Regions from separate parts of the Homo sapiens genome. Here region 2 is linked to region 1. The links come from fine-mapping of genetic effects on gene expression. A gene starts in region 1. The other region holds a variant in brackets. All regions are shown on one strand. Distances are between the middles of the regions.

The links. PIP is the estimated chance that this variant, and not a neighbour inherited with it, causes the effect.
Region 2: its variant is fine-mapped to the expression of ABHD13 in whole blood (INTERVAL, PIP 0.93).

What each region holds. Positions count from the first base shown.
Region 1 is chr13:108,213,842-108,230,829 of GRCh38, forward strand. ABHD13 (abhydrolase domain containing 13) reads left to right here and starts at 4,551. Exons shown (of 2, transcript NM_032859.3): 1 at 4,551-4,818; 2 at 15,358-16,988. The coding sequence starts at 15,378. The coding sequence ends at 16,391. It overlaps LIG4 (DNA ligase 4), which reads right to left and starts at 1,695. Exons shown (of 3, transcript NM_206937.2): 1 at 1,643-1,695; 2 at 697-769. RefSeq lists enhancers at 1,620-1,914, 4,224-4,553 and silencers at 1,758-1,897, 4,834-5,073.
Region 2 is chr13:108,256,199-108,273,186 of GRCh38, forward strand. It overlaps TNFSF13B (TNF superfamily member 13b), which reads left to right and starts at 13,520. Exons shown (of 6, transcript NM_006573.5): 1 at 13,520-14,036; 2 at 14,142-14,226. The coding sequence starts at 13,698. RefSeq lists enhancers at 13,556-13,985, 13,937-14,445 and a silencer at 14,346-14,425. The variant C/T (reference allele first, on the strand shown) is at 6,848.

The DNA.
Region 1 (16,988 bases):
AATCAGATAATCTACAAAATGTGCTTTAAAAAGTAGTAAGTCTTGATAATTTTAATACTATAATGCTTGCTGATCCAAGCAACATTTAAAATATAAATATTGCAAAATATTAACGAGATAAAAAGGTGGGAAGAAGCTTCACTCTTTAACAATAAGCAAAGCTTTCAGGAGAATGAATGCAAGCAATTAGTACACAATAACGATTCATCATTCATTCAGTTCTGACTAAATTGTCCTGAAGTGACACATGAAAATAAACCGGCAGGTTTTATTCAGTGACTATGGAAGGTGATTAAGTGCTATGCTATTGCACTTAAAAAAGAGAGAGGAAAAAAAGGAGTAAGTGACGAATGCAACTGAAGTATCCTTCATGCAACCCTTGACAAGCTGTGTTTCCCTAGGAAACAAAGGGTTTACAGCTGCCTATCTTCCACAGCACTTAGTGACAATTTGGGACAATCTCAGCAAAAAGAAATGAGCAGACAAAGACGCTAGAAGGGCTTTGGGATCCCAAAAGTTAATGAAAGACCAAGTGTAAGAAGAGAAATAAAGTAATTCCCTCCAAGCCTAAAGTCTCTCCCGCTCCAATGCCCCCTGTACCCTCTCGGAAAATGGAAAATCCCTAAGGAGTCTACATCATTCCTCTGCCCGTTCCCCCTACTCTCCCCCAACCCTTCACGGATTCCCAGTGAATACCTGGCCTCGGGCAAGCTCCGTTACCTCTGTGAACCAGAGAATCCCAGCTGTAAAATGAGATCTTGATGGTTTCCTGCGGGGTTGCCATGAGAAAGAATCAACATGTACGCAGGTAAAGCAGGCAATACAGTTCCAGGGAGTCAAAAACGGGAGAAATCGTCCCACGACCTGGGGCTTGGGTCTAGATGAAGAGCACAGCATCAGGAGGCCAGGCTTCTAATGCGGCGCAGTCTACAGCGCTGTGGACTCGGCAACTCCCATCACCTGCCGCTGCACAAACACCCTGCTTGCTGCCCCCATAGACCGACCCCCGCCTGACGCCTCCCAGACCCCCCCACCTGACGCCCCTCAGGCCCCCCGCCTGACGTCCCAGACACCCCCACGACCGGATCCCCCAGACCCCCAATCTGACGCCCCACTTCCCCTACTTGACTCCCCACACATCCCCCGCCTGACGACCCCCCGACCCCCGCCTGACGTCCCAGACACCACCCATCTGATCCCCCAGACCCCCAATCTGACGCCCCACACCCCCCACTTGACTCTCCACACACCCCACACCTGCCACCCCACGTAAACCCCGCCTGACACCTCACAGACCCTAACCTGACGCCCCACAGACCTCCCCCGCCTCCTGCCGCCACACACACCCCAAACCCCGCCCCGAACACCCCCCACCTGCCGCCCCACAGATTCCCCCCTCTGACGCCCCACAGACCCCCAACGTGACGCCCTACAGACCCCAACCTGACGTCCCACAGATACCCCGCCTGACGCCCCACAGACCTTCCCCCGGTCTGTTGCCCCACAGACTTCTCGCCGCCTGCTGGACCACACCTTCCACTTGACTCCCCCCACACCGTCAATCTGCCACCCCCCACCCCCCCCACCCCAACCCCCCCCAACCTCCCAACCGCCCCCACCTGCCACCCCACACCCTTCCCACCTGACGTCAAGCCTGAAGCTCAGCCGCTAAGCCGGAAGCTGGCGCCAGAAGATGCCGGTTCCGCCAGCTGCTCGCCGCGCAGGCGCAGGGGAGACCCGGGGCCTTGCAGTCACCGGGCTCAAGCACGCCGGCGCAGCCAGGCTCGCGATGGGAGGTGGGGGGGCCGGCAGCCCCGTGGGGCTGCGGAGGCGGGACCTGCAGGATCCTGGTTAGGGTCTTGAGTACACACGGCTCCTATTGGCCTCGGCAGCAGATGCTCTCTGCAAGCAGTTGATCCACACGCCAGTGGATTTTGTCTCGAGGGAGACCTAAGATCACTTTGTGCTCTGGCTAGTGATAGCCTCTAATTCTTGTTCTCTGTACGTAAAACAGTGGTAACTATACTGATTTCGCTGGTTGTGAAAACTCCCAAGAGAGAACAGGACATCCTCCCAACTCAAAACGTTGGTTGTTTCATTTAAACTTTTAAAAAATAGGCTTTTGCAAACTATATAGAGCTGTTTTTTTTTTTAAATGATGTTTGCTACTGTGGTCTCAGTTCTCTTAATACAGAAATAATACATAACAATACATAACTTACAATATAGAAATAAACCGTTGCATGACCAGAAATCAACTATGGACTCTTCTAGTATCTGTTTAAGGTTTAAAAATAAAGTTATTTAACAAACCTTTATTGAGCACCTATTATTATATAGTAATGGTGCTAGATATTCAGGGTGGAGAGATTATAAACAACCCCAGTTTTTGTGTTCCAGGAGCTGTTGGTTTCCACCGAATTTTTGCTGTGGTCAGTCCTCTTTCGCCATGGAGAAGTGAGAAGTTATTCATAAAGAGGGGTGGAAACAACTTTTAGAACTATTTTATTTTAGCATAAAATATTGCTTTACAATAAAATAAATTTTGCTGCAGTGGGCCCTGATAAAACATATTAGAGCTGTTAAGTGCCCTTAGAGGTTGTGTAATGTATAAAAACCTCCTTTTTCAAAACTGACACATTTCATTCAGTGCTAGTTTGTAGCGGAGGTTCCGTCTAGCCCAAGAACATTCAGTTATTTACTTCGTATGTCTAATTGACCTAATATGCCTGAATATCTAAAATCATCTGTGATGTTGTAAAGTCTCATGATATTGTTTTGTGAGTATCTGCTCTTCAATTTAGTTATCAATTTATTTTGGAGGAAAAATGAATAGTGTTAAGGTAGAGGAGCCTCCACTTGCCCATCTTAGGAGAGGGTACCTATCCGTGTACATTTGTAGCTTGTTCAACCTCTACTGAGCTCCTACAATGTCAGAAGCTGGACTTTGTATTAGTTACATGAGAAGAACCATGAATTATGAAACCAGGCAAACTCCAAATTGATTCAAAGCCCAGTCTCCATTTCATCATGTTATTTTAGTTGATTGGTTCAAAGACAATCAAGGGTTTTTTTCACTAAGTATCTTCTAGAGTTGCCATGATTATTAATTTATTTATGTAAATGGTCTACTTTATATATGCTTGGCACTTATTCCGTGATCAAGATTAGGAAGCTATGATTCAAGAACCCAGCTTTGACCTGGAGCTCTCCATCTGGTAGCAAGACACATATGTTCAATAACAACAACACCACAGGCCGGGCCAGTGGCTAATGCCTGTAATCCCAGCACTTTAAGAGGCTGAGGTGAGCGGATCACTTGAGGTCAGGAGTTTGACACCAGCCTGGCCAACATGGTGAACCCCCGTCTCTACTAAAAAATACAAAAATTAGGCCGGGCCTGGTGGCTCACGCCTGTAATCCCAGCACTTTGGGAGGCCGAGGTGGGTGGATCACCAGAGGTGGGGAGTTTGAGAGCAGCCTGGCCAACATGGTGAAATCCCGTCTCTACTGAAGAAAAATACAAAATTAGCTGGGCGTGGTGGCGCATGCCTGTAATCCCAGCTACTCCGGAGGCTGAGGCAGGAGAATCGCTTGAACCCGGGAGGCGGGAGGTTGCGGTGAGCCGAGATCTTGCCATTGCACTCCAGCCTGGGAAACAAGAGCGAAACTCCGTCTCAAAACAGCAACAAAACAAAAACAAAAAGTAGCGGGGCGTGGTGGCGGGCACCTGTAATCCCAGCTAGGTCAGAGGCTGAGGCGAGAGAATCGCTTGAACCAGGGAGGCGGAGGTTGCAGTGAGCCGAGATCACGCCATTGCACTCCAGCCTGGGCGACAAGAGCGAGGCTCCATCTCAAAAGGAAAAAAAAAAAAACCCACAGATTTATGAAATATCCTCTGTATATATAAAATAGGGGACATAGAATAAGGAAAGCCCAAGGGAGGGGAGGCACACATCTGTAAACAAGTGTGTACACTTCAGTGCACAGGGGGGTTGACAGCGAAGCTAATGAAGCCCAAGTTTTAAGGGCCCATTTTTGCGAACACTTCCAAGGCCTTGAGAGGGGCCCTAACGAGGTGTTCCCATGGTCGTGTACCTCGGTAAAATTTGCAAAAATAAGACAATTTTACATTATTTTTCTTTAAAAGGGCTCTCCAAATGGCACAAGGTTCAGGCCTCACAAAACCTGCATTCGCCCTTGACAGTCCACTCTCGTAGAGGTAAAAGGAGAAAAATAGTTATGGAAGCGCTTTAAATCGTGGACCTCATTGCGACACCCTTAACAACCCTATCAGGCAGAACAAATTGCTCCGCAAACCTGCGGCTTGCAGAGCGATGGTGGACTCCCGAGCTCATCGGGTCCGGCACCTCTTCACCACGGAGGCCTCGGGTACGGAACTGGAGGGAGTCCTGGTGCTCGGAGGAGGGTGGAAGGCCAAGATCCCTAGGTCCTGGAGCAGGGAGCCGGGCCCACGCCGCCGAGGTATCTTTTCCGTCCGGGCCACCGTCGCGGGGGCTCACTGGCAGCGGCTTCTGCGCATGCTCGGAAGAGCGGGCAGGGTTCCCACTCCGGGAGCGGAGACGGAGAACAGGTTATGTGGGAGCCGGCGGGGGCATTTGCCGGCGACACCCGAGCGGGGGCCGGAAGTGGGGCCACAGCTCGCAGCAGGAGCTCCGGGCTAGACCGTGGCGCCGGCAGCGGCCCCTGGGCTGGAGGAGGATGATGAGGAGCGACGGAAGCGACGCGGGGGTACGCTGCTGCGCGGCGCCCGGTTTCGTGCCCGCGGCCGACTGCGCAGCCTGTCCGCGAGTCTGAGTAAGTGCGGCTCGGGGACCCCGAGCCCGCGGGGCCCGAGCGCCGGTCCGCTCCTTCTAGGAGGGTCGCGGGGAGCCGCCGGCTCCTCCAGGCGGGCGCGAAACCCTCCCGGGAGGCTGTGGGGGGAGCCCCGGGGCTAGTGCGGCTTCCCCTGGGGGTCGTGCGGGGGCCGAGCGCCGGGGGTTGTGGAGGACCAGCCCGGGGTGCAGCCCTGCCGGCCGCCCCGACTCCGCTCACCACTCACCAGGGGAAGCAAACTGAAGCCAAATACCTGTTTTGGAAACTAAGGTGCGCGCATTGCCAGAGGCTCGCCGGGTGTCGTTTTGTAATTGGAACCTAAAACGTATCTTAGTGTTCTATGTCAATTGTATTTCCAGTAATGTGTACAAACCTAAGATCCCTAAAATCCAACCCTCCGCTCCCCCACCCTCCCACACAGACATGAAAAGTAAAATAGAATAATTCCAGCTACTAGGTTGGAGAGAGGGAGAGCCCCGATCTAATCACGACAGTAACAGGTTTAGACCTGTGAATATCATGACAGGAAGTTCTGGGGTTATTCAGGAAACATCAAAAAAGCACCCCATACAATCGAAGTCAATTTTGCTGTAGATTTTAGTCAACATTTAAGTAAAATGAATTACTAGTATTACTACCCAAGGTATCGAAACCAAAAAAAAGTCCGTCCCCATTTAACAACTCTTATTTATGTTTACTATGTGATAGTAACTGGATAGAAAGAGATGAGTATATTGGCTTTGTGTGTTGATATTGGATTTTTCACTGATCTCTTTTGACGGGAGGGGGTTCGTGGATCAATACTTATTTGTATGCATGCTTAGGGAAATCACTCGTCTTTGACTAAAATATCAAATTTTATTTTACTGTGTAAGATTTCTTGATTGCCGATTTAGTGTTAATGTCATGATATCCTACCTAAGACATCAGCTGCTCAATTAAATAATCGTTAATAGAGGCCCACTATGCATCAGGCACTGCTGCGTACAGAAAATGTAGAGTTGAATAGGACGAGGTCTCTGTCATCGAGGAACTCACAGCCTGTGTAAGCAGGTTAATTACGCTGTAATAGTAACTTCTGCCACGTAAGTTTGCACAAACTACAGAATGTGGAATGGGTGGCAGGAGGGAATAGGGGTCCAAGGAAAGCTTTCTAGAGGATCTACTACCTGAGTTTGGTTTTAACAGAGAAAGAGTGCATTGCTCTGATTACTTCCTGTGTTCAGATACGGTACCTCTAGGGAATCATATCCATTATTTGATCTAGGACTAATAGGGCTTCTAGTTGTCCTTACTTTCACATACTCTGCTATAGTACATAATTAAGTAATTTAAATTTTGTCTCATAGAAGTAGCTGCACTTAACACACTATTACATTTTATCTCAACAGTAGTTCAATTTAATCTTTCATCCTCCTTTTACATACGAGGAAATATATATTTAGAGAGGCTAAGTGAGTTGGCAAAAGCTACCTATCTCTTAACAGACCATGACTCAAAACACTGTCTCCTTTCCATTGCACCACACTGCCTCCCACTGACAGTTAACTTGGAATGATTAAAGCAAGCCAGGTACCTACAGGTAGCCCTTGGCACACTGCCCTCTTCTTGGGCACATCAAAGACCTCTTGGCATGTGGATAAGAGGGTTTACTAACCAAATTGCCCTGGGCTAACAATATAACTTAGTGATAGGTGCAGGAAACTGTTGGATCTAACATTTTCCCATGATCTCTTCTCATAACTTATCTCAGGGGAATCTATTTCTGTTTCTCTGTTTAATGTATTACCCAGATTCTGAAATCTTTCTAATCCTTGTTTAGTTGCCCCAGGAAAGTCTTAAGACCTTTAAATAGCCTTTTTTCGTGTGGACTTAAAAGATGCTCTAGTTCTTCTAAGTAAGATATTTTTCCTCAAATGACAGATTTTGTAATACATTATTATATTTTATGTTTCTGTTTCACATGGTGTGAACTCCTACAACAGTATATTCTGCTGAAATCCCTTGCAAAGATGTAGTATTTCCAGTACAGGGACTACATGCATTTATGAGCTAGCCTGAGAATCTAGATACTTCTAGTAAGGCTTCTAGTTGTACTTACTTTCACATACTCAATGTTATATAACACTGGTTTTATACAAAACAAATATTCTAAGTTTCATCCATCTAGTTTATAGGTAAAGTTTTAGAACATTGCCCATTTATAAATTGGAAACTTTGTGAATTTCATTATCAGTCTAACATCACTACAGTTTTAGGCTAGTGGATTTGTTTTAAACATTTCAGATATTTATAATCTCAGAACAAATTGTGGTTGGCTTCCATAGTAACAATAATCTCTCATTTTACTTCTGCCAGAGTTGACTCTATTTGCCAAGATTTTCAAGCATGAAAAAGCTACTAAGTAGCTGCCTGGTATAATTTTTGAGCTATCTGCTCATACAGATTTAAATCCTAGTTAAAGATGCTGTCTGAACCATCCAGTTATTATCCAGCATCTCCATAGGCAGTTACTGTTCATTTGTCCCATAGGACTATTAATACACACTTTTTCATTATTGATGGCATGTGGGTAACCATTAGGGAAATAGATAATTCATTCTGTGGTGTCTCCAACACCTTGATAGCAGCTATTTGTGTTTCCATTTCAGCTGTGCAGCTGGCATGGTTTCTTAACTTCCCAATGCTTAACAGAAGAGGAGAGAGATTGATATAAGAATACTGAATCTGAGTTCCACATTACTTCACATGTGATTGGAAGCTGTGATTCACCCAGAGTAATTAATGAGCCCATGGGGTGTGGGGTCCTCATTCTCTGCTGGGATGTGGATGTCGGCATTGACACACGAACTCCCTTTCCACTTTTTACAGTCTTCACTTGAACCTGCACATTTTTTTTAAATGTATGAACAGTTTTTATTTTTAAACAAGCTGTTCCCAAAATTATCAATCTAGGATGGACTTAAAGATCTTTAAAGAAATAATAGTGCCTTTATGACTTAGGACTTTTTAATTGTATTTGAAATTGTTTAGCCTTTTGCCAAATTGTTTTTCGGAAATTCATTGTAATTCACTATGGGTAATGCACTTTTTTGTATTTTTAAAAGACCATTTGCTGGTGGCAGAATCCGTAACTCGATATACAATATGCAAAACAATGTACACTTTTTTTTTTTTTTGAGACATAGTCTCACTGTGTCACCCAGGTTGGAGTGCAGTGGCACGATCTCAGCTCCCTGCAACCTCGACTCCTGGGTTCAAGTGATTCTCATGCCTCAGTCTCCCTAGTAGCTGGGATTACAGGCACGCGCCACCATGCCCGGCTAATTTTTTGTAATTTTTAGTAGAGACGGTGTTTTACCATGTTGCCCGGACTAGTCTCAAACTCCTGAGCTCAGGCAATCCACCTGTCTTGGCTTCCTAAAGCGCTAGGATTACACGCATGAGCCACCATGCCTGGCCCAATGTACACTTTTTAATTAAAAATAATTAGAATAACTAGAATTTAATTTGTAGGGCAGTTCTGACCTTCATTAAAATACAATTTTTATTGTAAAATGTTATCTATGATACAATAGATTTGTCTAATTTATTCTCCTACTAACCTTACGGCAATAATTACAATGTATTTACTCCTATACTTTTGAGTTTCAGTTCTTGATATATATAAGTTTTTATTTATTTTTAGTTTTTGGAGAAAATATTACTGGGTAAAAACCTTAAATATATTTATATATGTTATAATGCAGAAAGGATTTAAAAAAATGTAATATATCTTTCTTAATTTGAAGAAGGCAAGTCTCTGGGGCATAAGGCAATACAGTTATATGGTTAAATAGTATGGAACCGTGGTTCTCAAGCTTTTTGGTCTCAGACCGTTTACATTTTAGAAATGTAAAGATCCCAAAGATTTTTTTGTATGTATGTGGATTATATAGATATTTATTGTGTTAGAAATTAAAACTGGAAGTTTATAAAGTGTATAAATTAAAATTGGAAAACTGGAAGTTTATAAAGTGTATAAATTAAAATTGGAAAACTGGAAGTTTTAATTCATTTAAAAATAGCAGTAGTAAGTTCATTACATACTCACATAAATAAAATTTTATATAAAACAATTGTAATTACAAAAAATAGAGGTGTGGGATTATATTTTTGTAATTATCTTTAATGTCTGCCTCATAGAAGACAGGCAGATTATTAGGCTCTTAAAGTGAAACATGAAGAAAGTCAGGCTCACACAAATTTGTAGTTGTAAAGGGAAGAGTATTGTAGTAGAGAATTGTGGGTACTCGTTGGTACGACTCCATCACCCAACAGGAGGCACTTCCTTAAAGGTCAGTTATATTGTGCCATCTGAAACCTACATCAGAGAAATTGTTGTCTCTTGTTACATCAAAATCTGTTGGTTTGTAGTGAATTTTTTACTCACGTTTGCTTGATTTTGTGACACCATTCATTGGTCATTTGGAATATATTGGTTTATGGAGTTATGCAGATTTTTCCAAATGGTGACATGTTTAATATTAATAGATTACCACAGTGCCATCAAAAAGGTCCCTTAAGTGTCTAGGAGCTATTGGCAACCTCATTCATTTTCTAGTAAATATCTGCCAAACCTCTAAGTCTGAACAACCATAGTTTGTCAGTTGTCTTTTTAAATAAAAATGTTGTTACCTGAACAAAGCAGCTAGTTCAGCTCACAATTCAAATGTATTTCAATACATAGCACAAAATGCTTTATGTGCACTTCCAGTGTTGTCACACATTTGTCACACAATGTGTTAAAAAGATGTGTACTTGTTAGTTGAGATAAAATAATTTTTACTGCTTCTTCTTTGACATTCTTAAGTAAAACTGGATTATTCCCTCATTTACCGTGAGCTCATGGTGATAAAGAATACAGTGACTCCAACACGTGAGGCCACTACCTTGATTCTTACAAAGGCACCAGCAATTTTACCCATCATTGCTTATGCATCATTAGTGCAAGTGTCAAACAGTGAAAAAAGTAAATGATATTTTAGTATTATTATGAGCATAATACTGATCTTGTGGACCCCATTAGAGGGTCTTGGGGACCCTCAGGTTTCTGACCACCTTTTGAGAACCACTGGCATAGAAAGATCTCAGATTTAATAGAGCCCTCAAAGTTCATCCAGTTTAACAGCTCTAAATTCCTCTATGCTATCCTTGCCAAGTATTTATTTAGATTATGCTGAATACTTGCAGTTTCTGTGAATAATCGTGCTAAATGAATAAAAATAAGTGTCACAGACAGCTGTTTGATGGAAAGTAATAGAGATTCTTAATCCTGGAGTTATGTTTTGTCCTGCTTTTAAAACATTGCATAAGTTTCCACTTGGTTTCTCTAAGTAATCAACCTTGATGAAATCCAGAGACTACTAAAATTATGTTGTGAAGGAAAGATACAGCTAAGGTTTTGATTTTCCTTTGCTATATGTAATGACAATTGTCATCTTTCTTTGATTTTTCTTTGTCTGCTCTATAATTAAATGAACTTACGTTAGGTATGTAGTTATTTATATCCATATCTGTCTCCCGAGTACCTCAAGAGTTGCTTGAACGTTACTGAGTAGATCACAAGCTACTTGAGAGCAAGGACTGTATAGTATACTAGGATGCATTGGAATCTGATGACCATCTCTTACGGAAGAGGCTGGGAAATCAACTGTAGGCCTGCTTCAGTGGTCCACGCTGGGTTTCACAGCTCCCCTGGGAGCCTGCAGTGATATTCTGAGGACTCATACCATTCGTAGTGGGCATGACTTCAATATTGATCTCTTTTTCTAAAGCATCAGTTTATAAAATAGTTATTTAAATGAAATATTTTTCCTTAAAAATGGAACCATTCGTGATCCTATATGAACACAGGAGATGATTAGTAGACATCAGAGAAGCATGGCCATCACTCATGCCCTTAGCTGACTTACCATCCAGCTAACACTGTTAGCCAGCAAGGTGGTCTGAGAGCTTTACAGTTCTAGACGGCTCTTATTTTTAGTCTCAAATTGTTTATTGTATACCCGTCATGGACTTAAATTTAGAGACAGTAAGTAGGGAGCACTAGAGGTGACTACAACCAGCCAATTAGGACCATAAATCCTCAAGATGAGCACCATATATTAAATTGCATCAGATGATCAAACTACTTATGTAGTATAGCAGGATGTCACTAATACTGCAAAACCATTCTTGTAAAAGGAAAACAATCATATCTAATTTATACAGTACATGATAATAAAGATTAGTTATGCTTTCAGTAGATTATTTTTTGAGACACACTCACTAATATCAATGTGACACCTCAAACCACTTCATTTAGAAAGCACAAAAGTTGTTTCTAAGGTTGATTTTTTTTTCATTCAAATACAAGACTGGTACAGGTTATAATAAACTGTAATACTTAAATCTTAGCTACATATCCTGGGTTTTTAAAAAATGTATTTGTTTACACATCATGCTTTTTTTGTGTATAATTAGCATAAAGTCTGCAAAACGTTGGGAAGGGAGCAGGATGTGTTTAGTTTTGGATAAGTTTGAAATATCAGTGAAGCATCAGGTACGTGAGGAACAGGTAAATTGAGATTGTAGATGAAGAGTAGACTTGTAGATTGGGAATAATTCATACACAGGTGTGATAATTGGAGCCATGAAAAGGAATGAAATCACTGAGGGAAAGAACATAGTATCCTAAATGAGTGGAGAAGACCTTGGAAAATGCCTGCTTTTCGGGGTATAGGGCAGAGAGAAACAGCAATTTGAGTGTAGAGGAGAAGCCAATAGCAGATGACACTTTGGGGGTCTGGTGTTGCAGTGTGGATTGAGAAAAATCCACTAGATTTATTTTAAAGTGAAGTTTACATTGTATGAGAGATCATTATGAGAAGTCAGTCAGCAAGTTCTCAGATAGTAAATGGTTAAGGAGTTACTGGCGGTGGTTAAAACCACAGATTGGTGGGTTTTAGAAATGTCTGACATGTAATACCAGATCTGATAACATAGCAAACAGAAAATTGAGAAATGGGACTGTCAGGTATTCATTTAAGATGTAGACATAAGGTTAAAAATACATACAATAATGATGTAAAAGAAGACTGGAAGATGAGAAGTTATTGATTATCTACATTTCTATATTCTACATGGAACAGGTCTAATTGGCTCTCCTACTCAGCAGCCCTTCTAGTTGGTATAAGTTTGAGTGTATTAAATGCATCCTTTTTCCTGATTTTTATGATGCCAAGATGTTATCAGCAAATGGATTTCACATGCAGAAGAACCCAACAAATAATACATCTCCTCTGAAGACACGTTTTATAGGTGTTTTACCACATGGGACATACTTGATTGCTTCACTCATTCTTCATGACTAGTAGCAGTGGTCTTGGGGTCAATTGGACATTGATACTCACAAGACCCAGTATACCATAGTGGACCGTACTGTGCATCAGCCTTTCTGCTTTTTTGAAAACCCAACATGTCAGTGTTAGGTATATTGTTCCAGATGATAGCTCAGGTCTAGTGGAAAATGACACAAGGGTGGGAGTGAGCACCACCCTGGCTTAGCTGCTTCATGCTCCACAGGAAACAGTGTCTTTTTGTGACAGCATGTGAGTATAGCATCCAGGACTAAGCAAATGACAAGCCAATTACAGGTCGTATTCAATTCAGAAAAGCCCCTGTTTATACTTCCCACTGGGCATGTTTAGCCCTGCTCACTGTCCTCTCAGTCCAGATGTAGCTCATCAGTAGGAGCCATTTTTACTACACTGTTGCTTAGAAACACAGCTGATATCCCACCTTTATCAGGTTTCCAGGGAAACAGTGCAGGAAGGTTAAGGAGAGGTCATTTTTTATCTGAAGAGGGAGAAAGGTTTTGTTAACCGTTTACTCACACTAATTTATTGACAAAATCAATAGAAAACATAATGCTGGCTGTAGGATCCATGCAGTCGACTTTATTAGAGGCAGTGTTTGTTTCTATTGACTGTCATAACATCTGGGTATGAAGTTGTTTTTACATCTCAGCAGATGGTGCATGGTAATTATGCTTTGCTGATACTTTCAGCAAATTCAGTAAATTAAAAATCCTTCCTGATATTGTTCACTTGTCCTGGTTCCTTTAAGATCACCTTTGAGATGGAAATATATATCATACAGACTAGGGAACAGAGATTATTAGCAAGTGGGGTTAGGTAAAAATAAGGCAATCCGTGAGTGGAGTTCTTACTCTAAACCAGCAATATAAGAATATGTTAAGGAGAAAACACACCCATACCCACGCACTCCGCCACCCCAGAGCAATTTTTATTAACCTGTTCTTAAAAATGACTTCCATTTGATATTACTCAAGATGAATGGACTTTTATTCCGACTTCCATAGTGCAACAACTGATTGTGAGATTATGATTGTTTATCACAAAACAGTTTAGTTAATGTGACTTTTCAGGAATGTTTTGTGGAAAACGGTAAGTTTATCCCTTATTATTCCTAGCCAGTAATAGACCCAAACAAATACGCCCATTTTTCTGATGTTGTTTTAAACATATATGCCCACTGCTCAGAATACTTTTTTTAAAATAAATTGAATAATTCGTATATGTAATTAGATTATTTTAAAAATGTTTTAGTCGTAAGTATATATAAAGTGCTGTACTAGATATTAGAGATGCAATAGTGAAAAAGAGATATACAATTCCTAGTCTTATAAATTTTAATTCAGTATTTGCTAAAATTAGATGTTAGAGGCTACTAAAACGAAAATAACTTTTCAAAGTTCATTAGTTGAAAATTTAACTATGTAAATTGATATAAATGTAAATATAAGATTCAAATTTTAAAATATGCCTTATTCGTGTATTTGGAGCTATTTTATCTGGTTTTATATAATTTTTTAAGTAAGAACTAATTTGAGCAGAACACAGTAAGAAAGTAGTAGAGCCAGAAATACCAGTCACAAAAGCAAATAAAGTTAACATGTCTGTAACATTTATGAATGATCTCATTATTAATCTTACTTGATACTAATGACCAGCCTCATAGGTAAGCATTTTAAAAACTCATTCTACTGAAAAGGCAATTGAGACTGGAAATAAGTGATAAATAGTTATTCAGGGAGGATGTGATACTGTAATAAAACTTGCTACCACTGGGTGGCAGTGTTGATTTCTGGGAAATCAGAAAAATGTTGGTTTATGCTCAAAAAGGTTCAGTTCATTTGAATAATAATTCAAATGTAAAAGTCTATGTTTAGTGAAATAATAGAAAAAAATCAAATTTGTTAAATCATCCAACTCATTATTTGTATAATCAATCTATAACCTCTTTATAGCAGTTTGGTCAGTGGGAAAGAAGGAAATGTAGTATTTTTAAAAGTTCAGTAAATAAGCATAAGTAGACGAATAGTACATAAGAAAATTTGTAACATATCTCAATTCTTTTGCCTTTTTAAGACAACATGTATAAACCTTTTGATAACAAAAAATTCTCTTTTAATAGTTTTTACTTTCTTTATATCAGTTAACATATTTTAGTAATCTTTTTAAGAATTGTTCTCCAGTGAGTCATTTTACTTTATTTATCTCTGTTTCTCAGAGGATTTCTGTGTATTTGTTTCACACTGAACCCTCAAGTATTTATTGCCTTATCAATACATTTTAGCAATCTATTGACCCCAGGACGTGAAACTTCATTAAAGAGTATATAAAAGATACTGCCGATCTCATGACACTAGCAATATGATATTTATTTTTAATTACATATGAAAGATAAATCATTAATAATTTTCTTAAAACTAATACAATATTAGAATCTAGTGTTTAAGCAAATTATTTAAGTTTAGTATTAAAACTTCGAGGTAGAGGGGGGATACTTTTATTCTTTCTTTCCCTAGTTGTTTTTTTTTGTTTTATTTTGTTTTGCCCAACTCCTTACCCTAGTTTCTTTAGTTTTTGCTACCGTATGTGAAAAAAATTGACAAAGTATATTAGATTGGTCTTGCTATGTTGGAATTTCTGAACTGCCTTTTCAGTACAGTTTGCCCTGGACATACGTAACCTAACAGCAGATGTACCACAATCTCTAGAATCATGCTTGTTTGCCTCCCAGCTCTTCTACATTGAGAAGCAGATGATAGCCAGTCTACTTATGCCCCTGAGCTTCTGTTTTCTCATTAAAAAAAAAAAATGACACTATCGCATCAACTTTTTTTGGGTCAAATCCGTGAGAACACGTATATGAAGAATAAGCACTTGTTAAAAATGAGTTAATTTGAAGAATATTAGTGTTTCCTAAATATGACAGTGGAGGGATATGGTAGAAAGGAAACTGTTGAGAACAGAAAGGACAAGGGAAATTATAGCAGCTACTTTTGTGGATGGACTGTACCTATTACCATATTTAACAATTACATGTGGCCTAGTACCATAGTTTATTATATTGTGGATTTTTAAAAGAATAGATAGACGTTGAATTATTGATATTCTCCCTCTCTCTCTCTAGGATACTTACAGAGAGCTACAATGGAAAAGTCCTGGATGCTGTGGAACTTTGTTGAAAGATGGCTAATAGCCTTGGCTTCATGGTCTTGGGCTCTCTGCCGTATTTCTCTTTTACCTTTAATAGTGACTTTTCATCTGTATGGAGGCATTATCTTACTTTTGTTAATATTCATATCAATAGCAGGTATTCTGTATAAATTCCAGGATGTATTGCTTTATTTTCCAGAACAGCCATCCTCTTCACGTCTTTATGTTCCCATGCCCACTGGCATTCCACATGAAAACATTTTCATCAGAACCAAAGATGGAATACGTCTGAATCTTATTTTGATACGATACACTGGAGACAATTCACCCTATTCCCCAACTATAATTTATTTTCATGGGAATGCAGGCAACATAGGTCACAGGTTGCCAAATGCATTACTTATGTTGGTTAACCTCAAAGTTAACCTTTTGCTGGTTGATTATCGAGGATATGGAAAAAGTGAAGGAGAAGCAAGTGAAGAAGGACTCTACTTAGATTCTGAAGCTGTGTTAGACTACGTGATGACTAGACCTGACCTTGATAAAACAAAAATTTTTCTTTTTGGCCGTTCCTTGGGTGGAGCAGTGGCTATTCATTTGGCTTCTGAAAATTCACATAGGATTTCAGCCATTATGGTGGAGAACACATTTTTAAGCATACCACATATGGCCAGCACTTTATTTTCATTCTTTCCGATGCGTTACCTTCCTTTATGGTGCTACAAAAATAAATTTTTGTCCTACAGAAAAATCTCTCAGTGTAGAATGCCTTCACTTTTCATCTCTGGACTCTCAGATCAATTAATTCCACCAGTAATGATGAAACAACTTTATGAACTCTCCCCATCTCGGACTAAGAGATTAGCCATTTTTCCAGATGGGACTCACAATGACACATGGCAGTGCCAAGGCTATTTCACTGCACTTGAACAGTTCATCAAAGAAGTCGTAAAGAGCCATTCTCCTGAAGAAATGGCAAAAACTTCATCTAATGTAACAATTATATAATGTTTCCCTTTTTGATTATTGCATTGTATTTTAATTTGTGCAGAATGATAAAGAATGTTCCTTTTAGAAGTGTGTTATGTCTGTACCTGTCTGAAGAGTGACATTAAACTTTGAAAGGACTTCACTGCTCCTTTACGATATTCCAAATAGTTTTTTACATTGGAAAAACTAATTCTTGGGATTCTTTCATACATTTTCATCAAAACTTTCAGTGTGATTATGTATTCATATCTTCAGTTTAATATGTCAGTATAATAGATATTGTTCAAAAGTTTCTTGTTGCTAAAGTGGTGTAATCTGTTACACAGATGAATAGCTAGATGTGGAAAGAGATATGTAAACAAGAAACCTTTGGGTATTGTTTCTTAAGTAAATATTGGGACAATCATGGTAAGCAAACTTAGTTCTGTAACTGCATTTTTCACCTTAAAAGTTAAATGAAATGCATGATGGTATTTTATTCCTTGAATTATGCAATGCAACATTTTACATGTAAATAGCACTGGTCATATACTGATGTATATGGTTATCTGGGTTATATCTATTTTTATGTAAACTCTATTTTGTTTTTGGCAAGAAGTGAAATTGAGACTTATG
Region 2 (16,988 bases), 42 kb after region 1:
GTGGAGAAATAGGAACACTTTTACACTGTTGGTGGGACTGTAAACTAGTTCAACCATTGTGGAAGTCAGTGTGGCGATTCCTCAGGGATCTAGAACTAGAAATACCATTTGACCCAGCCATCCCATTACTGGGTATATACCCAAAGGATTATAAATCATGCTGCTATAAAGACACATGCACACATATGTTTATTGTGGCACTACTCACAATAGCAAAGACTTGGAACCAACCCAAATGTCCAACAATGATAGACTGGATTAAGAAAATGTGGCACATATACACCATGGAATACTATGCAGCTATAAAAAATGATGAGTTCATGTCCTTTGTAGGGACATGGATGAAATTGGAAATCGTCATTCTCAGTAAACTATCGCAAGAACAAAAAACCAAACACCGCATATTCTCACTCATAGGTGGGAATTGAACAATGAGAACACATGGACACAGGAAGGGCAACATCACGCTCCAGGGACTGTTGTGGGGTTGGGGGATGGGGGAGGGATAGCATTAGGAGATATACGTAATGCTAAATGACGAGTTAATGGGTGCAGCACACCAACATGGCACATGTATACATATGTAACAAAGCTGCACATTGTGCACATATATGCTAAAACTTAAAGTATAATAATAATAAAGTTAAAAAAAAAGAAAAGATTACATCTTTTCACAAAGAATACAGAGATAAAACCAAAGAGTCAAATGACTAAATGTAGTTGAACAACTGAACCAGAACACATTTTTTTCTGAGTGCTAGTCCGGGATTCTGTGTCACACACTGCTGTCCTCTTAAGCCTTCAACAACACACAGATCCTCTTTGAGGTGCAAAATTCATGACCTGCAGAAGTTTACAAAATGTAATAGGTTCCCTTGTTTGGGACACAGTGAGAATTATAAATTCACAAGTCATTGATATTAAAGAGAAATTGCAGAGTGACTTTTAAAATAATGAAGATGGTAAATTGTATAATATATGTGTATTTTACCACATTTTTTAAAGTCAAAAAAATGCTTTTGATAAAGGATTGAAGATTAGTATTCTGAAATGCTGAATTTTCAGTAGTCACTAGTAGAGTACAGTTTATACTTATTTGATTTGACTTGTTATCCTTGGTTAATTGTTGCTAGTGTTGGTGGTTGATAGTGATAAGATTTTCACATGAATTTTACACTGCGCCACTTGTCCTGAGTGTGGAAATATCAACATTGGTCTGGATTGTGTTTAAATTTTGAAATTGTTGAAAGCTCATTATTCAATTTAAAGTATGTAAACAGCTGTTGCCATGAGATAACAGATTATGCTTTTGGTTAAAATTCTGGGAATCACCCACCAGTTTTTGTTTACTTTTTAATAACCAGAGGCTTATATTTAAAATAGACAAAAAATTAGCAAGTGCATTTTAAATTTAGTAAATTTAGAAGTAACCAACGACAAGTACAATTATGAACTCATACTGTCTCCACTACTAGACATGTTTTATGACTGTCTGAAAGTATCTAAAACAGATTTTATGAGTTTTCATATAAAATTATATTTCTGTTTTAGCAATCAGTCATGGTAATCAAACAATTTGAGGACAAGAGTCTTTATATTTGAGTAGCAGAAAAACACAAGGGAAATCTTTGATCCCTGATAGATCATTAAACAAAATAGAATTTAATTTTACTTAACATCATGTGTACACACACACACACACACACACACACACACTTTTTCTATTGTTTTTTTTTCACCATGGATACCGTGGATAAATTCTCAGTAGTGAGACTGTTGAGTTGAAGTGTAGATATGTTTTTAATATTTCTAGTATCATTAGATTGGCTTCCAAAACAACCTTATTATTTTACATTTTCAAACAAACCACCATGGCACGTGTATACCTATGTAACAAAACTGCACGCTCTGCACATATAAACCAGAACTTGAAGTGTATATATATATATATATATATACACACACACAAACACACACATACACATATATGTGTATATATATACATATATATGTGTATATATACACATTATATATAATGTGTATATATACACATATATATATGTGTATACGTATACACATATATATGTGTATATATACACATACCATAAAGCTGAAACCACTAAAAAATTATAGCATTGAAGACAAAGCTATAATATAAACACAATGATGTCCAAAAGAATTAATTCTCATCCAAAAGAATTTAAAAAGGGATAAGCCAAAACAATCCAGGTAATGAAATTAAATAAAGATAGCTAACACTGATGATTAATTATATATTGTTAGTTAAAACGTGAGCAAAAGTCATTCTTTATATAGACATATGTATATATAAAGAATGACTTTTGTATATGTATATGTATATATGTATATGTATATATGTATATGTATATGTATATGTATATATGTATATATGTATACATATATATGTATATGTATATGTATATGTATATGTATATGTATACGTATACGTATATATGTATATATGTATATATACATATATATGTATATATAAAGAATGTATATATAAAGAATGTATATATAAGAATGTATATATAAAGAATGACTTTTGTATATGTATATGTATATATAAAGAATGACTTTTGCTCACGTTTTAACTAACAATATATAATTAATCATCAGTGTTAGCTATCTTTATTTAATTTCATTACCTGGATTATTTTGGCTTATTCCTTTTTAAATTCTTTTGGATGAGAATTAATTCTTTTGGACATCATTGTGTTTATATTATAGCTTTGTTTTCAATGCTATAATTTTTTAGTGAGTACTGCTCTGGCTCATATGTTTGGTATAAGTTGTTTTCCCTTTTGTGATTTTCTAGGTAATTTCTAACCTCAGTTTCGCATACTTCTTTGACACAAACTTGACCTATGAATGTATTTTTACATTTTCAAGTAAGCAACTCTTTGATCACCTTTTTGTAATGATTTCTATTTTTATGAGATTATAATCAATGAATGGGATATATCACTTAGGTATTACTAAGTAATAAACCACCCTACTTTAGTGCCCTGTAACAGCTCCCCTTTATTATTTTTGTAATTCTGTGAGTTTTTCAGGTGGCTCTTGTGCCAGCTCCACCTGAGTTCATGTGTGTGGCCGCATGCCTCTGACAGCCAGGCTGGCTGGGGGTTCAAGATAGCCTCACCCACACATTTGGCAGTAAGTGCTGGCAGGTGGTTCAGGCACTTTAGTGGTTTTCAATGTATCTTCTCATCCTCCAGTAAGCTAGACTGACTTTCTTGCATGCGGGTCTCAGGGAGGCAGTCCTGTGTGTTCTACTGGTCAAAGCAAGCAATTCACAAGGTCAGTTCAGATTTAGGGGATAAGGAGACAGACCAACCTTATTATCAGTCACATTGCAAACAGGCATGCCACCAGAGAGTAGTTCTTCCAGTCTTTGCAAACTATCCGTCATGGTAGCCTGTAAAAGACTACTTTTTAAAGTTGTCCATTTTGATTAAAATTTTAAGTATCACTTGTGCATTTGGGGAAAAAGTTATCTTTTTGATAGACATAATTTATTATCTCCCTCTCATTTTTTAATATCTTTGCACTAAGTGTTATAATGTTAAATAATATAGCATCAATAACCATAAAGCTGAAACCACAAGAAAAACACCTGGAAATACACAGGAAAAAACATTAGATATGGGAAATTTTACTCATCTCTATTATTCTATGACATCATATAAACAAAAATGCAGATATTGTAGACTAAAATAATAAAATTATTAAGGATATCCCTTCTTTTCAAGTAGCTATGTTACATTCACACAAATGACAATACTATTAATCCCTAAAGAAACTCTGATTAAGCTTTATAAGTAGAAATTGTGAGAGAAAATTATCTGAATGCAATACGATAAAATAGAAGTTAGTGAGAAAAATGAAGAAAATTTCTGGAAATTAAAACAAATTAACAAATATCTCTTAAATAACTTTTAAGTCAAATTGGAAAGCCAAACAAAATTTTTAGATTAATTTATATTATTAATCGTTTCTAGAAAATAATAAGCACAATATATAAAAAACACAATAATAATAAAACACAATACATACCTGATATCATTGAATTTTACTAAGCAATGCTCTTGGGAAATTTAATAGCCTATCAACAAATAAGAAAAGAAATGAATGTTTGAACACTCAACTGAAGAAGTCAGACTAAAGAAAACAACAAAACAAACAAGTAGAATGAGACAATTCATAATGATAATAAACAGAACTATCTGCTGATTACTTATTTGACACTAACAAAACAGACAAGTTTTTGCTATTCTTTCAAGAATAAAAGGAGAAATTGTATGCAGACAATTTTTAAAAAAAATGCTTAACCACAGATACAAAAGAAATGGAAAATCAGATGAGAAACTGTTTTGTATAAATTTATCAAGTAAAAATTGAAATCATTTAAAATGATCTTATACAATAGAATTTAACTCCATGACACAGGAGTTTTCTTTTTTCTTTCTGACTTTTTTTCTCTCTGTTTTAATTTTTGTATGCCTAGTACCTAGAACAATACTGAAAGAGTGGATGGTGAATATCCTTCCTTTGCAATTGGTTTAGCTACTTTGTTATTTCATTTTTTTTTTGTATTCAAGAGAAATGCATGTATACTCCAATTTCCCCTTAATTTTACACACAAATTTATTCATAATATCCTCTTACCTGTTTAGGATCTGTAATAGCTCTAAAATGTCCCGCTTTTAAAATTTCTGTTATTGAAATTTCATACTTTCTCCTTTGTACTGTGTCTTACTACAAATTATTAATTTTATTTGTTATGTCAAATAACCAATTTTTAATTCTCTTTATTGTAAAGTTATTATTTATTTCATTAATCTCTTTTATATTTTTTACTCCAATCTTTAAGCTTAATTTGTTTTCACCTTTTAACTTGTTAGGGCTTTGTGACCTGTATGCTCAGATTATTTCTTTCCATTCTTCTTTTTAAAACATGCCATCAAAGATATGATTTTTCTCATAAAAATAGCTTTAAATGCATTTTACAAGATTTTATATACTTTATTTTCATCATATCCCAACAACTCTTTCTATATTCAGTAATACCATCAGACCTTACCTGGGTCGATTTTTCTCAGCATCCTTTCCTTCCTTCCTCCCGTCCTCCCTTCCTTTCTTTCTTTTCTTTCTCGGAGTCTCCCTCTGTAGCCCAGGCTGGAGTGCAGCGGCGCGATCTCTGTTCACTGCAAGCTCCGCCTCCCGCGTTCACACCATTCTCCTGCCTCAGCCTCCTGAGTAGCTGGGACTACAGGCGCCCGCCACCACGCCCGGCTAATTTTTTGTATTTTTTTAAATAGAGACGGGGTTTCACCATGTTAGCCAGGATGGTCTCGATCTCCTGACCTCGTGATCCGCCCAACTCGGCCTCCCAAAGTGCTGGGATTACAGGCGTGAGCCACCGCGCCCGACCTACTTGCTTATTTTTCTTTTCCAAAAAGCTACCCATACAGATTTTCTCAGCATTTTAACCTAGGACTTGATAAGCTAATTCAAACTGTAGTTTCAGCTCTTTCATAGATTAAGAAGCATTATTCTTTTCTCCTGTAAGTTTTTATGTCATTGCCTCTATTTAGTCTATATCCTCTCCCTCCTTTTATGTTCCCATTTTTCTTGCATGTGAGTTGCAAAACACTCTTGAGTTTTGAGATTTTACTTCTATTTGAGCCTGCAGGCCAGTAACTCAGTGCTCAAAAGTGACCATCCTTTTCTTCAATGCATGTATTAAATTATTTAATTGAAAACTATAGAGATATTTTTTAGTTCCTAAAAAGTTTCTTCAGTTGAATCTTAAGTCCTCTATTAGTTTTTAAAATTCAAGTTGTCTCCATCCCTTTGTGTTGTGTGTATGCTGGGATGTTCTGTGCTCTCCTTCTTTGATGGTTTATCTCTCCCTCTCTCTCTCTTTTTTTTAATTTTCATTGGAAGACGTTTATTTAGTCAGCATTTAACAGAGAATAGCAGAATCCATGAAGGACAAGTGTTCCAGGCACTAGAGATACAATAGGCTAGAAACCACACATTTCTGCACTCATGGAGCTGAACACTCTTAGTTTATCATTTCTTTCTGTACATATCTTCCCTACTTCCACCCTACCCTCTGCCATAATCTTTTTAAAATATATATATAAATGGCTTCATTTTCACATTTCACACAACCACAGCTGTGCATGCAAAAACACTGCAGTCTAGCCACTATTTATACGTCCAGCCACTTCTTGCATCTCTCCCGATATCCCAATTTCAAGCTTTCTCTCTTCAACACCTCCTGTGTTTGATTTGATGGCTCAGCTGGGGCAGTCTAGCCTCAGGAGGTGGGAAATCAAGTCCTGTCTAACCCTATGAGCCAGGATTGGACTAACAGGGAAACTTCTAGTCTACTCTGAGGCATTTGGGGGAGGCTTTTGTTTCTTGTGATCCCCTGATAGTCTCTCAGCTTTAGGGGCAGGGAGGACTAACCCCAAGCACTTACTCCCTTTGTGGGTACTCAGAGGCCCGGGAAACTTGGCATATTCCTGTGAGGCTGATGTTAGCCACTGCCTGGGGCCCACAGATTTCTGCTCAACCATTCTATCTAAGACCCATTGAGACTTGGGTCTCACATATAGTACTGCAAATACTCTCGAGAAATAAACCTCAAACATTATTTTTCTCTATCTAGGGCCAATTAGAGCAAAAAGCCCCTCGCTAACACCCAATTACCTCTAAGTTCTACTGCAATTTGGCTCAGAGAAGAAAGATAATTTACAGTTGTTAGTAAAGGAGAAGAAAGATGCATTCATGTTGCAGTTTTCTCAGAATA[C/T]ACTATATCTCTCTTACTTTTTCTTAGTTTGAAATTATTCCCTTCTTACACGGAGATGCACAAATTCTAATTTTGCATTTTTTTTTCTGAAAGAGTTGACTACGTTTTTTTGGTTCCACATAGAAAAGACAGATTCATTAAACACATCTTCACATAATAATAATTTTTCTTAAGATTCCTAACATATTAAAGAGCTTAAATTATTAAAAAATAGCTATATTAAAACTGGATGTAAGACTCTTTTTTTTTTTTTTTTTGAGATGGAGTCTTGCTCTGTCGCCCAGGCTGCAGTGCAGTGGCACAATCTCGGCTCACTGCAAGCTCCACCTCCCGGGTTCACGCCATTCTCCTGCCTCAGCCTCCCAAGTAGCTGGGACTACAGGCGCCCGCCACCGCGCCTGGCTAATTTTTTGTATTTTTAGTAGAGACGGGGTTCACCGTGGTCTCGATCTCCTGACCTCGTGATCCACCCGCCTCGGTCTCCCAAAGTGCTGGGATTACAGGCATGAGCCACCGCGCCCGGTCAAGACTCTTCTTAACAAATGAATTAGTTTTTCTAGCTTGTGGGTGTTGACCTTTTCTCTTTACACCGTAGTTTCAAAAAGTGGACATTTGGAAAATTTCTGAAAGAACATTTAAAACTCTCTTATACAAAGTTCTTTGGTTGTAAGAATACAATTCTTACAACTAGCAGAATTAGTATGTCTTTGGATCCTAATCAACTGCTAATCTAACTAGCAGATTTAGGATGTCTTTGGATGAATTAACACCTAATCTTGTCTCACATTGGCGTAAACAGTTAGGAAATAGTATGATCCAAATAACAAGCATGAAGAGTTGAGTAATCCAGCAGGACAATTATGTCCTTACAGAGCCAGGTTCCCTCCAGAATCCTGTTCTTGCCGTCACTGTTTCAGTCTGGGCCTGACGGCAGTTGCAGGATGGCAGTTCTCGGTGATCACAGACAGGCTTGTAATGTCTAGTGGAAGAAGAGCATCTCTTTCTTGTCAATCTCTTTAAGAATGAGGAACTCTTTCTTAGCAGTGCCCCCAGGAGACCACCTCACAACCAACTGTAAAAAGCCTCTCTCATTTGTCCCTCCTTAGCAATCAGTGGTGATGTAGATGGAGTCATCGTGAGTAGATTTCATGATTAGGACTTCCCTAAAGTGTGAGATTATGTCGGCATCCCACAGAGATAGATATCTAAACAAAGTCAGCGTCTAGATTTGGGGCAAGAAAGATTCTGTTAAGATGGCGAAGCAGAATTGGGCATACAGATGCTTCTGGCTTCAGAGCCTACACTCCTAAACCCATCCTCTTCTCAACATTCAATAAGCGAAATTTCAAATAAATCATTAAAATATTTGCAGTCCATTTAATTTTAATTTATTTGTTTTATTGATACAAAACAGATGCACATATTTTCAGAGTATATGTGATAATTTGATACATCATATAATATGAAAAGAACAATTCAGAGTAACTGGGAAGTTAATCACCTTCAATATTTATCCTTTTGTTTTGTGGGAACATTAAAATGATTCTCTTCTAGCTATTTTGAAATGTAGAACAGATTAATGCTAACTCTAGTTGCCCTACTAATCTATCAAGCATTAGGTTTTATTTTTTCTAACATAAATCAACCTCTCTTCATCCCTCCACCCTTCTTCCTACTCTTCCTGGCCTCTGGTAACCACCTATCTACTCTCTATATTCATAAGACCTACCTTTTTAGCTCCCACATATGAATGAGAACATGTGATATTTGTCTTTTTATGCTTGGCTTATTTCATTTAGCATTAGTGACCTCTAGCTGGTGAGAATGTGGAGAAAGGGAACGCTGGTGCACTGTTAGTGAGAATGTCAATGAGTACAGCCACTATGGAAAACAGTATGGAGGTTCCTCAAAAAACTGAAAACAGAACTACCATACTTAAGCAATTCTATCACTAGGTCTATATCCAAAAGAAAGCAATCAATGTATCCAAGAAATGGATCCAAGAAATGGATTCATTCATCCAATCAATGAATCATGTTGATTCAGCACTATTCACAATAGCCAAAATATGGACTCAACCTAAGTGCCCATCAATAGATGAATGAATTTTAAAAATGTGGTATAATACAGTGGCCTACTATTCAGCCATAAAAAGTAAAATCCTGTCATTTGTAGCCACCTGGATGAGCCTGGACGACATTATATTAAGTGAAATAAGCTAGGCACAGAGAGACAAATACTGTGTAATCTCACTTATATATGCAATCTTACAAAGTTGATTTTATTGAAGTAGAGAGTAGGAGAGTGGTTACCGGAGGTATTGGGGTGGAGGTTTGTCACCTGGTACAAAGTCAGGGTTAGATAGGAAGAACGATTTCCAGTGTTCCATTGTACAGTAGGGCGGCTATAGTTAACAATAATATATTATATATTTCAATAGAGCTAGAAGACAGGATTTTCAAAGTTCTCACCAGATAGAAATGATAAATGTCTAAGGTGATGGATATGCTAATTTTCCTAATTTGATCATTACACATTGTATACATATATCAAAACATGACACTGTATCTCATAAATATATATGTGTCAATTAAAAATTTTTTAAATTAAAAATTATATACAGTGATTAACATTTAGCCTTTCAAATCAAATTTAACTATATAATAACTTAACACACATACTCTCTCTCTCTCCATTATATATAATATATATATAAAATATATAATATATAAATATTTTATATATATATAATATTTCTACTGGAAAACAGCATATTTTCCTGAAATGCAATACTTAACCTATATCATAAATCTTCCATATTCTGAGTGCTTTAGGATACCAATTTTATCTAGATGTAATTTTAGGTACATTTACAGATCGAGTACATTCACAGATCTAGAAGAGCTGTTGTCGCCATGCTTGACTGGTCTAAATCCTTTTCCTCAAAGGATTTTGAGGAAAACACGCTTTTCCTCAAAGAAAAAGGGCAAAGGAGAGATTCCTCAAACCTGTAATTCTTTATAGCACTATTTAGCCAGAAATTTATAATTCATTTTTAAAAATATTTTTGAGGTTGTCAATGTAAGAACATAGTCAGAGAGTGAATGTTTATTTTCTGCTGTTTCTGACTCCCGGACAAACTCACAAGTTATATTCTTTTGAATCCTATCTGCCTATTTCTGAGTGGATAGAACAGTTTCGTCAGTCACAAAGTCCTAGTATCTCAGTTTGTTTATTGAATGACAGAAGAATGCTTTACACTTACATTGAGAAAAAGATGTGTGTAAAAAGCAGCTAAATACTGTCAATAAACACTGAATGTATAATAAGATCGCTGCACAATCTGTGGCTCAGATACAGTGGCCTTTTGTCCCTGAATAAACTTGTGATGTGGTGTATTATTCAATGAACGTGAACATGCTTCTTGTTTAACAGAATTTCTGTTAAATTATTGCCAAACCATTTCCTCTTCCGGAAACAGATTCTTGATTTATGGAGTAATGACTTCCTTTTGTTCATCTAATAAGAGATTCAAGAGTCATGAATGTCACTTCGTTTTCTACCTGTCTTTAGAGAAAATGCAGCTGTCAGATCCCTGTGGAGGATGTGCACATTGCCATCCCTGCTTGCTGTCCCTCTAGCCAGAGGGACATGATGGCTGCCCTTTGTGGAAGAAGAACTTGCCCATTTTATGCATGGCACGGCTCACTGCCGCAACAAACATCGGCACTGGTTTAAAAATGGCTGCGTGCAGGCTGGCCAGTGACTCTCTTTTGAGATGTTCAGGCATGAAAGTCTCTGCCCAACACAGTGACGAAGGCAGAGGGAATTCCCTAAAGCAGTCAAATCATTCCCTGTCTTCAGAATTTTCTCTGAGGGATATAGAGGGGAACGACTCACCAGAAGAGGGAGAATGTCCATGGATGGAGAGAAGCAGTGGCTACAGGAAACCCTGAGTGAAACGCAGAGAGAAATTGCTTTCTAGCACTGCGTTGCATCCTTTCATTTCTGCATGTATTTAAATCATAAGAATACACAAACACATCATCTAAAGGATCTCAATGACTTTCAGTAAGAAGGCCTTCATACAATTCCCATACGAATTCCATTTTTTATGGCAAGGTTACTCCGTATGACTCACCCTAATTGTTCTGGAACAAGAACTGACAGAAAAGAATTGGACTGTCATTCCTGATGCAAAAGGGTTTACAAACATCCTTCTAAAAGAAGACTTCCACCTGAGAAGGTTGATGGAGGACCTCTTGTCTACGTACCTGTTAGACTGGGGCACGGTCACCTTATTGTGGGAGTTATAGGTAAGAAAAATTAGAGAGCAGCTTATTTTGGGGGCCAGGATAATAACAAGTTATTTTTAAAAGGTCTTGGAAACTTGCAGATGCAAAGGGAAAAAAACAAAAAACAAAAAACAATCCTAATGGTAAAAACAAGTAAGTCTGACTGCGTCATTTTGTAGTAAGACAATGAGGAAATGGGAACTCGTCAGAGGGTAACTGGGTGGTGCCTGTAAAAGTGAAGATGTGCTTCTCCCTCAGCAGGCATTTGCTGGGAAACCCTTGCAGACGTTACAAGCACAGTTGTAGAAAATATCTATTAGAGCACTGTTTGTAACTGAAAAATGTTTCATTCATACTTTGAATGTAAAGAATAAAAGTGAATGAAAAAATGGAAGCATTGCACCGTGCTTTTGATTTACATTTCCCTGATCATTTAGTACAACCACCATGGAAAACAGTGTGGAGATTCCTTAAAGAACTAAAAGTAGAACTACCATTTGATCCAGCAATCCCACTACTGGGTATCTACCCAGAGGAAAAGAAGTTGTTATACGAAAAACATACTTGCACACACATGTTTATGGCAGCACAATTCACAACTGCAAAAATATAGAACCAGCCCAAATGCCCGTCAATCAATGAGTGGATAAAGAAACTATGATACATATATATGATGGAATACTACTCACCCATAAAAAGGAATGAATTAATGATGTTCGCATCAGCCTGGATGGGATTGGAGACAATTATTCTAAGTGAAGTAACTCAGGAATGGAAAACCAAACATTGTATGTTCTAACTCACAGTGGGAGCTAAATTACAAAGATGCAAAGACATAGGAATGATCTAATGGACTTTAGGGACTCAGGGGAAAGGGTGGGAGGGGGGTGAGGAATAAAAGACTAAAAAATGGGTTCAATGTGTACACTGCTCGGGTGATGGGTGCACCAAAATCTCACAAATCACCACTAAATAACTTAACCATGTAATCAAATACCACCTATTCCCCAAAAACCTGTGGAAATAATTTTTTTTTAAATGGAAGCATCCAAAATGTAATTTGTTTCCACATTCTTGTAAGCCTCATTATGTATCCCAGGGACAGTTAATATCGTCATACGAATTCACAGGTGAGGAAATGGAATCACAGAGAGATTATGTACTTTGCATAAGGAGAGCGAGGGTGAGGCAGGATTTGCAGTCTAGAAGCCTGGGTCTGGAGTTCTCCACTTTGCACTATATCATTTCTGTAAACTTCTTACTTAAGACTGTGTGGAAATGTAGAGTGAGACAGAACTAAAGCTCACTATTCTTAGTCCACAGGGGAGTAGTGACTACCCAGGGCTTGGTAAGTGCTCAGTAACGTTTGTTGAAAGATGAATCAATATTTCAATGCTGGGGCAAAGCAGTGAAAAACTGGGGAATGTCCAGGAACCAGCCATCAGGATAAGGCAGGACTAGAATGAATGCAACAGTCCTCACAGGTCCACCAAGTCAACAACAGAAAAATCCAAAGCTAAGGTGGCTCTTGTGTGATCAAGGACCTCTTGTACACCGACCTGTTAGGCTGTGGCACAGTCAACATGGGAGTTGTAGACAAGCTACTTGAGAGTGGTTAATGGTAGCAGTCAGGCATTTGGAGCTGGAGGCAAGGCTGATTCTCCTCAACTAGTATCATATTGAGCGGGGACTTAAAGCCTCAGAAGTCTGAGCAGAAAAGCTGAGACCAGGCTCCTTGGGACAGGCTGTTCATATGCATGATTGAGTTTCAGTGATGAGTCCCAGAAGGAAAAAGTTTATGCATGTTTTCCTTAAAAATATATTCACTTATATTTAGAGAATCCTTCAGATATCTAACCTAAATACGTCTGTAACATTTACTCTCATTCTTTTTATGACATTATTAGTATAATAATATGAATAATTCCCAGTGGACTTACTTCCACACTTCCTTCAAGGATTCTCCATTTTATTTCATAATTGAAGACTGTTAATAAATCACTCTCTAGCTAAGAACAATTCAATGCTAAAACACTTAGCTTATCTGACCTTCACATTAATTATTTTTATGACAGCAGCAGGAACTTTCAGCTGCTTTTCCCCCTTCCTTATGAAGCCATGTGGTCCCAAGCAGACAGAGTTCCCTTGCTACACTTAAGGGTGGGCTTCTCAGACCTGAGCATATCTTAAAAGCTTTCCCTTGACTGTGCCAATCCAAACTCCAAGTTTCCTCAGCAGATTTAAGGGGTTTTAAATCTACTTGAGCATGAGTGTTATGAGAAGACTTTGAAATTCTTACAAAAACTGAAAGTGAAATGAGGAAGACAGATTGAGCAATCCAATCGGAGGGTAAATGCCAGCAAACCTACTGTACAGTAGGGGTAGAGATGCAGAAAGGCAGAAAGGAGAAAATTCAGGATAACTCTCCTGAGGGGTGAGCCAAGCCCTGCCATGTAGTGCACGCAGGACATCAACAAACACAGATAACAGGAAATGATCCATTCCCTGTGGTCACTTATTCTAAAGGCCCCAACCTTCAAAGTTCAAGTAGTGATATGGATGACTCCACAGAAAGGGAGCAGTCACGCCTTACTTCTTGCCTTAAGAAAAGAGAAGAAATGAAACTGAAGGAGTGTGTTTCCATCCTCCCACGGAAGGAAAGCCCCTCTGTCCGATCCTCCAAAGACGGAAAGCTGCTGGCTGCAACCTTGCTGCTGGCACTGCTGTCTTGCTGCCTCACGGTGGTGTCTTTCTACCAGGTGGCCGCCCTGCAAGGGGACCTGGCCAGCCTCCGGGCAGAGCTGCAGGGCCACCACGCGGAGAAGCTGCCAGCAGGAGCAGGAGCCCCCAAGGCCGGCCTGGAGGAAGCTCCAGCTGTCACCGCGGGACTGAAAGTGAGTTTGCAGCAGCTGCAAGACGCAGGCAAGATCCTGCCTACACTGCTGCCTCTCCCTCGCCTCAGCTGTCTTTCTAATAACTTGAAGTTTTTCTGTTCATAGATCTTTGAACCACCAGCTCCAGGAGAAGGCAACTCCAGTCAGAACAGCAGAAATAAGCGTGCCGTTCAGGGTCCAGAAGAAACAGGTATGTTTTGGGCACAGACACTTTTAGGAGTCAGGGATTAGAGAATAACATCCAGTCTGGGGGAGCTGGAGGTGAGTATCCCCTCTATGAACCTATTAAATAGAGACTATGAAATTTGCCATCCAAAGCAGACATTGCTTTAGAGCAAAGCCCCAGCGCTGGCAAATGTAACAGGCTGCATGGGTGTGCTTTTTCCTCCAATGAGCAGATCGTGTGACTGGAAGCATTTCTCTGTGCGTGTGTAAGTATTTATCTGTGCATTAAGCATAGAGGAGATAAAAGGGCCATATGTGTTTCCTCAGGTAGATAATGCCCTCCCATGTGAGAAGCATTATTCATCACTCCAGAAAAATAAAAAAAAGCATTACATGTTAGAATTAGACTTTGCTTACTACCTGGGTCATAGAAAGTTAAAGACATCTGTTTTCTGAATGTACATTACATGTTGTGAAACCAGGTGAAGGTTGTAATGAAAGGCCCTGTATGTTGTACTTTAATTTTGTTTATTTGTTAAAAAGGTTATTTTACACACACACACACACACACGCACAGACACACACACAGATTTTAAAGCTTCTCTTTAAGGTACGCTTTTCCAGGGGATCCATGCATTTATCGTCTTCTTATAATCGTCCTTTACTGATTTCTGACTTTCTTCATGTTCTGCTCATTCCACGGAACTTTACAGAGTTGGTGGGGCCTACCAAAATGATCGATTCTAGTTCTTTCATTTGAAGGTGAAAAAAAGAATCTTTGTATACATTTATTAAAGTTATAATATAACAAATTCTTAATATTATTGTCCTTTTATTAAATATATTGAAAGAATATTTTTTGAGCACCTGGAACGTATCGTACAGCTATAGACCAGAATAGGCATTTTCAAACATACTATTTCGTTTAACCTTCACAGTGACGCTATGAAGTCCACAGAATACATGCAATAATTTATGTATATTTTCACTTCTGAAGAGAATTGCATAAGAAATGTAGTGAGAGATAGACCAGGGACCCTTCTATCACACACACACACACACACACACACACACACACACACACACACACGCATGAGGTACCCTGACTATAAACTTATTTTTTGACTATATGCTTTATTCATAAAAAATTGTTTCTTATTTTATAAAACCATAATTTTTGGTATCTGGTTATTGTATCTTTATACTAGTTATCAGGAATAACTGGGCTTAAACATTTTTAAATTAGGAAACATGCACATTTTTATTATTTTAACACATCAATTATTTTTATCGTCTGCATTTTATAGTCTATATTTCCTACATAATTGAAAATAATACGGAATATATACTATAATATTTTTTGTTTTGACTTATACAATAAGGATTTTTCCTATTTCTAAGTATTTTTCATATATCTGTATTAATTTATCTAACAATTGTTTTAAATGGTTATTTCCATTCTCTTTGCTATAATACAACATGCAAAAGTTTTGCACAGAACTCTTTTATTTCTGTGAAATTATATATTCAATATAAAATTCATATAGTGGAATATCTGAGCTAGGGAGAAGAAACATCTTCATCACCCTTGCTTCCGACTGCCATATTGTTTTCAAAATGAGTTATACATGCAATCAAAAATGTGGTGTACCGGTTCTCCACATTCTTGCTTGCATGTTATTTTTAAAGTGTATTTTGACTAGTTTAGTAGTTGTAAAACAATATCTCACATTTATTTTGATGTGTTGCTTGTTTACTAATATGAATAAACTTTCTGCATATTTTGATTATTTATAATTTTATCTTTTGCTAATTTTTATTTATAACTGTCTCCACTTGTCTGTCCCATGTTTTTATAATTTTGGATAAGCTCTTCCTAATTAGACATATTGATAATTGATCAAAATTTTGATGTAAATATTTTAACAGTTTTGCTTCTTTTTTTACTTGAACATTTTGCATTTCTCTATAGTAAAGTGATAATCTTTAAAAAATTTTCCCTAATATTAAAGCTAAAAATACATTTGTTCATGTTTTCTTAAGTAGTTGACTCCCTGCCACTTTGACTTTTTCATAGTTGAGTGTTTTGTTTTAACTCATTAGTCCTTCTGTTGTTTATTTTGATGAATCATCTCACATTGGCTTTAACTTCCCCCTCTCTCTTTTTTCCTTTCTAACTGGTATCTCAACCAAATGTATTAAATAGTTCTTTTTAACTCCTTGGTGTTGAAAAGCTTACTGTGTTTTATTAAGTTCCTCATAAGAGTTGAATCTATTTGAGACTCTTTTTTTTAATTGATTATTCTATTTATATGCTTTAAAGAATATTTTTAAGGTAATTTGTATTATAAGAGGCTTCAATAACTAGTAGGGTCAGGATCCTTCAATCTCCTTAACCTTCACTGCTAATATCCCCGTTTCTAAATATTAGTTTTAAAAATAAACTTTAACTTTACAATTAAAAAAAAAGATGTAGACTCATTTCAGCAGATTTAAGAAGAAAAGAATAATAGAGTAGGAAAGAAATAACTTCTTGGGTCACATTTTCCCAAAATTCTCCTATTAATACTTTTATGTATTTGTGTTTTAATGGCATCCAGGAATAGTATACTGATGAGAATCTTTCACCAAATAATTTGCAATTTGTAGATTCTAACAAAGTGAAAAAAAATTTGCCCAGATTTCCACAGCCCAGAAGTAGCTACTATTATTATTTCATGGTTTGCCCTAGACTTTTTAATAAACCTTAATACAGTGTGCATATAGGTATATATTGCACACAGTTGA